Linked DNA regions of Homo sapiens. The protein of the gene in region 1 purifies or fractionates together with the protein of each later gene. This does not show direct contact. Each region holds a gene or a part of one and is shown in the gene's direction. Other genes may lie near its edges.

Region 1 (5,123 bases):
CTAATGTAATAGGAAACATATGTAAACTGCTAGCCTATAGTAAGTCTGCAATAAATAGAAGCTACCATAACTGACTAGTTGATAGTCTTTGTCACATGGAAGCAATAACCTTTGCTTCTACATTCATTTGGGAAGAAAATAAAACAGAAATGATTCTTTTTCTACTGAGGAAAAGAAAGAACCTATAAAACATACGAGAAGGTCAGCTGTTCCCTCATGGGAGAACTTCTGAGAGTCCAGATAAACAGGCCCACGCCTAAAGCAGCTCCAGCCATCTTGGGGCTCTCTGGATTGCCTGGGGGTAGGAAATGCACGGCACAGCTAAACAAGAACAATGGGCTCTATGATGAAGCTGTAATCATTGGCCTCCTGTGTGGGTATGGTTTTTTTCTTTTACTTTTTTTTTTTTTTTAGCCTCAACATATGACCACATTTTTTTTTCTTATTTTTTTTTTGCCGGGGGTTGGGGGGTGGAGGGCATGGGTATGTTTTCAAGTAGAAAAGAGTAAGTAGACTTTGAATGAACCATTTCCTTCTGAGTTTTCCAGGGCAAGTTAAAGCTGTAGAAACCAAACAGGAAACTACGGCATGAACTCACTCCTTCAAAAACTAACTTCTCAAAAAGAAAATTTATCTCTAGTTGAGGCACCATTTTGTCCCAGAGACCTTGCTCCCATCTTTCTTTCCCTAAGGTATGTTTTCATTACCTTGCCAATAGGTGGCACTTACAAGATCACTGAAATTATTTTATTTTTGTTCATTGATTGCTTTGAGGAAACCCATTTGAAAAATAAATTAGGTTGCAGTCAGGAAAATAGATACCAAGGTGAATATTTCAAACAGGGAATTTAATACAAGGAAATAGATAGTTGTTAGAAGACTAGAAGAAGAAAAAAAAGAAGACTGGAAAAGCAGAAAGAGAAAACTGAGATAATCCAGAGATTGGTAATTGCAGGGAGTAGCTATTGGCCCTAGAATTGGGAGAATAAATGGGAAAAGGTGTTGCCACCAGAAGCTAAGAGTCCACAGGAGGGGCCTCTGTGTAGCTGTTGCAAGGACTCCTAAATTGGCACCATGAGGCTGATGCCAGGAATGCCAAAAAATGCCTGAACCATAGCTATTGGCTGCAATTGGAGGAATGAAGGCAGAAACCAGAGGCAGGATTAGAGACCCTTATGTCCTCATACCATCTTCCAGTCTCTCATAGGCAGAACATAACTAGAAGACAGTGGGCAAGAGAATCTGGGAAATGTAGTTTGCAGACTCCCAGTTCTGGAATTATAAAATAAAATACAGAAGGGTGTCAGGCTTGGGACTAAGAGACAACATATAAATATCTGGCACAGAAAGTAATAGAGTTCTACCTCCTTCAGAAGTAGCACAGGAGCTATAGACGGGGTAAAGGCTCTTAGGCATTGTTACTACTTTTTATCTTATGGATTCCCAATTTTGGAGTGGTCTCCTTTTATGTCTTTAAAGTATGTTCCTCATTTTAGCCAATATGATGTGAGTGGAACATGACAGCATCATTGAGGGCACGGAGAAATGCAGGGAAGCTGAGGGTGTGGACAGCATCATTATTGCGCACCTTTCTGTGGATAGATTAATAGATCTCAAACTTACATTTGTGGCTTTGCTTTAGCTGTGCACACCTACCGCTTATTGTACCACTTACAAACATGTCAGAACTGTAATATACAGATGAGGGTTGTTATTATCCTGAAGGTAGTCACCCATGACCTCATTCTAACAGTGATTCCACTAATCAAGACATTCTTTGAATTCCACTGAGGAATTACCTTCAGAGTTTGTGACACATCCACTTGTTTCTAGGTTGTTAAATCTTTGTCTTTTTAAGGCTACATTCAGTATTTTAAAATAGTTAAGACACTTTAGTTTAAGATCGACACTTAGAGTAAACCATCAAGGTGGATATGACCGCTTGCTGCTACTGAATCTACTGTGCAGACTATAATTCAAAAGAGGAATTCCAAATATACTTGTTGCAATAATAGCATGAGTAAGTACAGCCTTTGAAGCTGGATCCTTTGAAGGACAACACGTATTGAGGCTTATAATAATTTTATCCAAAAAAGATCCATCTTCACCACCTCTAATTCCTTTGGAAAACAGAAAGAGTGTTATTTTGAAAAATAAGTTTTATTCCCTAGGATCATAAATTCCTGAATGCATGGACTACTGGGTGCCAAGATTGATTCCATTCCTTGTTCATTATGAGGGAAACAAACTTGTCTTGTTAAATGAGAAATCCAAGTATTCTCAAGTTTTGGAGAAAAATTTGATGCTTATCCTCATAATATATGGCAGGCCAGGATTTGTTGTTTAGTGAGTAAACTGCCAGGGGAAGGTCACATTCTGGCTTTGGGACCCAAGGCTAAGGAAAGTATGTACGTTTACAGCAGAATGGTTAAGCTTCCAGTTTGCAGAGTTGCTGAGCTAGCCAGTTTTCTTCAGTATATTAAGATGGATTGCGGAAATTTTGGTCACATTTCCAAACCCAACTCCTGCTAATGTGACAACTCATTCTGTGAGGTCACTTGGGTCAGTCTGGGGCCTTCAGCTTTTAATTCCCATCTAGGGAGAAATGGCTTGGCCTATGGAATGTGGAAAAAAAGTTCCCCAAAGCCAAGGAATCCTGAGTTCCTCCTGGAGCCAAGGAACAAGAAACAGATCACTTGTTGAGTCAAATTATTCACGAAATAGACAACATATAAATTAACTGTACATTTTCAACAAATTATTGGGGACCAGTCACACATAGCCTCCTAGCAGAAGAGATCTGTTCTCTAAAAATAGAGATTGAAGATATACAAAAATATTTGGATCATATTATACACATCAGATATTTATTCTTCTTTAAGCCAATTCTCTTTGCTTTTGACTTTTCACTCAAAGTTCAGCCAAAAAAAAAAGAAGTTTGGCTTAAGGGTGAAGCAAAGCCAGTGTGCAGAATGATCAAAAGTTGAAAATAAGCAGTTTATCTTAATTATTTTCTTCCTCAGTGTCTTCCTACTCTCTCCCATCCCCGCCATCCTGAACCCTTAAGTGACTTGTTTCCTCCAAGGCCTCTGCATTGGACTTCCGTGGATGTCTCATGTTCTAAACCAGGGGTCCCCAATCCCGGGCTGTGGAGTGGTACTTGTCTGTGGCCTGTTAGGAACCCGGCCACACAGCAGGAGATGAGTGGAGGGCCATCAATCATTACCGCCTAAGTTCTGCCTCCTGTCAGATCAACCACAGCGTTAGATTCTCATAGGAGTGGGAACCCTATTGTTAACTGCGCATGGGAGGGATCTAGGTTGCTTGCTCCTTATGAGAATCTAACTAATACCTGACAACCTGAGATGGAGCAGTTTCATCCCGAAACCATCCCCTCCCCCAACCCCGTCCATGGGAAAAATGGTCGTCCACAAAACCGGTCCCTGGTGCCAAAGAGGTTGGGGACCGCTGTTCTAAACTACCCCTTCCTGTCACTCACTCCTAAATCCAAACTCCCTTTAGGCCTCCTCCAGGGAAGGTTGACTAAACTTTCATCCAGAGGTGTGAGTCATGGTGTTAGTGACAAATGAAAGCTATTGTTCAGCTCACACAACTGGAGAGAGATCAGCCTGGGGTTCTTTGACTTTTGGTGTGGTCAATGACAAGAAACACACACCCGGACACAGGAAGGGGAACATCACACACCAGGGCCTGTTGTGGGGTGGGGGAGGGGGGAGGGGTAGCATTTGGAGATATACCTAACGTTAAATGACAAGTTACTGGGTGCAGCACACCAACATGGCACATGTATACATATGTAACTAACCTGCACGTTGTGCACATGTACCCTAGAACTTAAATAAAAAAAAGACACACCCACTCATGCAACCAAGAGGACTTTGAGATTAACCCACAATCTCACTTTATCACTGCCTCACATCACCCCTTGGTCCAGAAGTTGGGAGAAGGATATTCTCTACTGGAGCCAGAGGGCAGAGTCAGGGAGGAGCTTGTTTCCACAGCCTGAGGGTCTGATAAGCATAACGTATATAGAGTTGCTGGTGTAGAATGCACTCAATAAATGTTGGTCTTTGCCTCTTCTCAGTGGAGGCCAGCTTCAGCATGGGGGACCCTGGGATTGCATACATGATATATATATAATAATATTATTGCTTACACACCCTGTGCCAGGCACTCCTTCAATTCCTATAACAACTCTGTGAGGTAGATACCACACATTTCAAAAGTAGAAACTGAGGCCAAGAGAATTTAGGTGATCTGCCCAACTTATTCAGCTGGGAAGTGGATTCAGACCCACAAGTCTACTGTAGTCCGTTTCCTTCAGCTTATCTACACCACATTACCTCTCTTGGATGCCTGCTTGTATTTTGACTCTGCAGAAAAAGGCTGCATGACCTCTCACAAGAGACAGGGCAGTGAGTGACAGGAGGTGCATCATCAGCCTCAAAAAGGAGGCATACCCTTCCTTTTTTCGTGGGCTGGATGGAGCTGTGGTTCTCATCAGTGCCCTCAGTTTTGTGCAGCTGGCTCACTTCTCCATTTCATTCTAATCAGTCAACTGCACTATTCCAGGTTCAAACTAACCCTTACATCATCAAAACAAAAATATTTACACTGCTAAGCTAACGGCCACCTCAGCACGGATCAACAAGATGACCATATGCTTTACTGCCGTCTGCTGGAAAATTATGGCAACAACTACCCAAATACACAAAGCAAAGAGTGCCCCCCTGGAGTAGTGCAACGCAAAAATGTTTACAACTGTGACCAACAGCTCTGCTTAAAAGGCTTCTAGTAATTTAGCCAATACTCTGGGGATCAGAGGGAGTACATGAGGCATAAAAAACAGTCCCCAAGGAATTTTCACAGGGTTTTCTCTGGTAACTGATAACTAGTCCCATGGTATCTGCATTTTAAAACAGAAGCTTGTTAACCTAAATAAGTCTCCAATTAGTGGGATTTAAATCAGTATGACAAGAGTAATGGGAAGTATTTCATGCAGGGGTGAACATATTTTTGGTGAGTGATGTCTTACAAAAGTCCCTTTACAAAATAATGAGAGTGTTTCTCCAGACATCTGCAATTAAAGCACCTTCACATAA
Region 2 (4,929 bases), on another chromosome or scaffold:
TTACAGGCATGAGCCACCACACCTGGCCACCACTAGTTTTTGTAATGGGAGCAGGTTCCATATGAGATGGAGGAATGGATTTCATGATTGTCTTTTTAATTTCTTAGATCTCCAAGAAATTGGACATGAGGAAACCACTCTAAGTGTGACCACTCTAAAGCATTAGCAATCAGTCATTTCACTCTAGGGAGAAATCAGAGCTGAAATATAGAGGATAGGTAAAGTCCCCAATGTAGATATGTATTTTTATATTTGATTACTTGCTTTTTTTTGTTAGATGCAAATAATACGGCACTCCGAACAGACACTAAAAACAGCTCTCATCTCAAAGAACCCAGTGCTTGTATCACAGTATGAGAAATTAAATGCTGGGGAACAACGTTTAATGAATGAAGCCTTCCAGCCAGCCAGTGATCTCTTTGGACCCATTACCTTGCATTCTCCATCAGATTGGATCACCTCCCACCCTGAGGCTCCCCAAGACTTTGAACAGTTCTTCAGTGATCCTTACAGAAAGACACCCTCTCCAAACAAACGCAGCATTTATATACAGTCCATTGGTAAATACTGGTAATGTGCTGGTTTTGGTTCAGTTTTGCAGTGGCGCTCTTGTCAGGAATAGTCCAGGCTATGGGTCTGATTCAGATGGGCCGTTTTAGGATCGTTTTTGATATTCATTGCGGCGGTACAAGTTTTGTAGCCAAACTGACTTAAAAGATAACATTTTGTTTCTTTTTGTTTCATAGCAACACCAATGAATGATAAAGGTTATTGAAAATTTAGAGTTGGTTTTGTTTCTAATTTGAATCTTCTTACTCATAGACTGGGTAAACACTGAATAATCATCTTAAAGTCTGTTTTTAAATGTTCTTCCATATTGTAGGCTCTCTAGGAAACACCAGAATTATCAGTGAAGAATATATTAAATGGCTCACGGGCTACTGTAAAGCATATTTCTATGGCTTGAGAGTAAAACTCCTAGAACCAGTTCCTGTTTCTGTAACAAGATGTTCCTTTAGAGTCAATGAGAACACACACAACCTACAAATTCATGCAGGTGAATTACACGACTTTGCAATTCGAACTGAGTATATGTATATAATATACACTCATACATTTATGTATTTCTTTTTAAATAGGGGACATCCTGAAGTTCTTGAAAAAGAAGAAACCTGAAGATGCCTTCTGTGTTGTGGGAATAACAATGATTGATCTTTACCCAAGAGACTCGTGGAATTTTGTCTTTGGACAGGCCTCTTTGACAGATGGTATTCCGTTTTTGGCATTGTTGTTAGAAGCTTCTTCAGCTTGAGAATATTTGAAGATGTTAGAAGAGGGAAAAAATTCCAACCAAGAATCATATTGATATTTAAAATATTTTCAGTTGAGACATTATGCCATAATGGGAAGTGTGCTGTTGGTAGATTGTGATAATCTAGGTTCTGGTTGGCCACTCACTACCTACAGGACCTTAAAGGTAACAATACCCACATCATGGAGTCATTTGGAGATAATTTACATAAAAGTGCCTGTACATAAAAAGTGTGGATAAGCCTGGACAACATAGACCACATGTCTACAAAAAAATAAAAATTTAAAAAACTAAATTAGCTGGGCATGGTGGCACATACCTGTAGTCCTAGCTACGCAGGAGGCTGAGGTGAGAGGATTGCTTGAGCCCAGGAGGTTGAGGCTGCAGTGAGCCATGATCGAGCCACTGCACTCCAGCCTGGGCAATAAAGTGAGACCGTGTCTCAAAAAAAAAATGTATATATAGGCCTGGCATATATATAGGCATACAGCATAACAGCTAGTAAATGTCAGTAATTCAGTAGCAAGGTGAATTAAACCAATTACAGTTTGAGCTATCAATGGATGTGAAAATCTTGCTAATTATTTTTCAATTCTTTTCATAGTCATCTTGCACAGTTAGAATAGCCATAGACTAAGTGTATGCTTCTTTCTCATCATACGACATTTGTTTTTTAATTTAAAGAGTCAAAACGTCCATCTTTGATTTGAGATATGTAATAAACCTTGACTCATTAGGAACTCTGTATGGTAATATTAGGGATGGGAAAGGTTCTGCAAACCGGTCATATTTTTAACCTTTTTTTTTTTTTGTCATCTCTCTACTTCTCCCCTCCCCTTAATTATTGTTCTTATTTCTCTAACTTCATCCCTAAGAATCCAACACAGACTTGAAAGGGAAAAGGCCCCCTAAGGGGAGTGGTTCATTAGTGTTCTGGGGATGGGGAGTAAGTACAGGGACTATCCTGAGAGTTTATGGTCTGTCTGGATGTTACATTAGCCTTAGGATTTGTGTGGGGTGGTAAGCTTTTTGGGACAAATGTTTCTACTAGAGGTGGGGGCTGTAGGGTTATAGAGCCTCTTCCCACTTACTCCTTTATTCTTTATTCTCCATTTATGTGAGGTTTCTTGTGGCCCCCATGGCCCTACCAGCATGCACTCTTGGAGACGTGGGTCACTACTTTCTTACTGATTTTGGTGGTGTGAGGTAGCTTTTTATCATAAGTTTTCTCTTTTATTATTAACCTGATAGAGATGGAAACATTGAAAAATAATTCTATCTACCTTTTATTTTTCTTTTGAGACAGAGTCTCCCTCTGTCACCCAGGCTGGAGTGCAGTGGTGTGATCATGGCTCACTGCAACCTCAACCTCCTGGGCTAAAGGGATCATCCTGCCTCAGCCTCCCGAGTAGCTGGGACCACAGGACCACCACACCCGGCTATTTTATTTTATTTTATTTTTGGCCAGATGGGATTTTTTTTGGCCAGATGGGATCTCCCTGTGTTGGTCAAGCTCATCTTGAAGTCCTGGGCTCAAGCGAGCCTCCCATCTCAGCCTCCCAAAGTGCTTTGATTACAGGTGTGAGTCACCACACCCAGCTAAAAAAATAATTTTAAAACCATATGTTCGTTTATCTAGATATTGCTAGCTAACTTATCTTATGTGTTTGAGGAGGTCAGGAAACATTTCCCCAAACTGTATTTACTTTAATTCTTTTTTTGGTAAGTTTCTTAAATATTACATGACATAAAAGATTTACATAGGAAAGTAGCAGGATTAGACAGTGACAATATCTTAACACAGTGGTCTTGTTTTCTCCGAGTTTACAAAGATTGATATTTTTAAAGTGAGACGCATTGACTACGAAAAAAATAGTCTATTTGTAGGATTATTGGAAGAAGGAAATGTCCTTGCTGAAAGTAGTGAAATATGCTCACACTTGATTGGCCAGAGGGGGTTACTTGTGATAAAGGAATAGATTTAGTGTGCTCTTAATTTCCAGAATGCTATCTTTGCTTAATTTTCAAATATCAGTCTACATTTTCTGGGTAAAGGGAGGTGAGGAAGTTTGTTTTTGAATCAAATTAGATTGGACAAATCTACTATGGGTTTATTACTTTAAAAACTGAACGAGAGACATAAATAAAAGTGATCATGTAAACAAGTCGAATTATGAAGCAGTACCCTGTAGGGTGAGTTATGTAGCAAACCGTGTTCTCTGTGCTTGCAGAGATGGTTGATATAACTCTAAATGTAACACAGGAAGTCAGTTACAAGGGTATTTATTCTGGTCACCAGACACTAGTGACAGAATAGAGTTGAGCTGTTCTTTGAAAAGGGGGTAGGGTTGGGGAAGGGGACGAGGTTATTCTGTCAAAAGCCGTGGTTTAAAGCATGGGCTTCAAGACATCAGGGGCAGTTGTCCTCAGTCAGTGCTGCGTGAGGGAAGGCCAGCAACCCCTCCAGACACACGTGTAACAGATCTGTTTAGTGTGTCCTTAAATAGTGAAATCATGACTTCCTATTGTTCATGTGATTTTTTTTTTTTTGAGACTGAGTATCACTCTATCGTCAGGCTGGAGTGCAATGGTGCGATCTTGGCTCACTGCAACTCCGCCTCATGGGTTCAAGCCATTCTCCCGCCTCAGCCTCCCTAGTAGCTGGGATTACAGGCACCTACCATCATGCCTGGCTAATTTTTTTTAGAGACAGGGTTTCACCATGTTAGCCAGGCTGGTCTTGAGCTTCTGACATCAGGTGATCCACCTGCCTCGGCCTCCCAAAGTCCTAGGATTACAATCGTGAGCCACCACGCCCAACCCATGTGGTTATTTTTTATGATTCCTTTTTGAGTACTTGATTTGGAGTACTTGCTACTTTCAGAAAAAGACTTCTTTTGTGGGAAAAGACTCTCTGAAACTTCAGTTTCTCAAGCATTTGACCTCAAGTCCATTAAGTTTTACAAGGCAAGGCAAAGTGGATAGCAGCAAAAGATTTTGATAGGGAAATCTGGGGCAAAAGTCTTCCTTTTTGGTGGCAAACCATAAGTGTATCAGATGGTGTGGACACAGTGACACAGAGATGCACTCACTGGCCAGATGGGCCAGCAGTCTCTTCTTTCTTTGGTCTTTCTTCAGGGACCTTACTCTCATTCTGTCACTGTTTGTCCTTTTTTTGTAGGTGTGGGGATATTCAGCTTTGCCAGGTATGGCAGTGATTTTTATAGCATGCACTATAAAGGCAAAGTGAAGAAGCTCAAGAAAACATCTTCAAGTGACTATTCAATTTTCGACAACTATTATATTCCAGAAATAACTAGTGTTTTACTACTTCGATCCTGTAAGGTAAGTTATTACAAAAATCTGACAGGACAGTTCTTTAAAAGAGATCTTAGTTCCGTAAACTGTATATTGTCAGTCCGTAAGGTAATATTATAAATGAGTTTGTATCATTTGTATAATTTTGGTGCATAGTGCTTGACTGAAATGATCAGTAAAACAATTTAAATGGATACCTTCATATTGAAATTTACAATATCAGTGCCAGTTTTTCTGTACTACTAGTTACAGCCTTGGCTGTACCCATGTGCTATTAGTGTAATTCTGAATTCTGGTAT

The links. Proteins that work in one complex are often made in the same cells at the same time.
Region 2: the proteins of KCNV2 (region 1) and AMZ2 purify together in Homo sapiens (affinity purification with mass spectrometry; one large-scale study listed by BioGRID and IntAct). This does not show direct contact.

The regions. Positions count from the first base shown.
Region 1 is NC_000009.12:2,723,567-2,728,689, forward strand, and holds part of KCNV2 (potassium voltage-gated channel subfamily V member 2), read left to right. Parts: intron 1-5,123.
Region 2 is NC_000017.11:68,249,911-68,254,839, forward strand, and holds part of AMZ2 (archaemetzincin-2), read left to right. Parts: intron 1-275; exon of another isoform or gene 276-277; coding exon 278-560; coding exon of another isoform or gene 561-570; intron 571-883; coding exon 884-1,057; intron 1,058-1,139; coding exon 1,140-1,268; exon of another isoform or gene 1,269-1,477; intron 1,478-4,493; coding exon 4,494-4,657; intron 4,658-4,929. UniProt on the Homo sapiens protein: Probable zinc metalloprotease.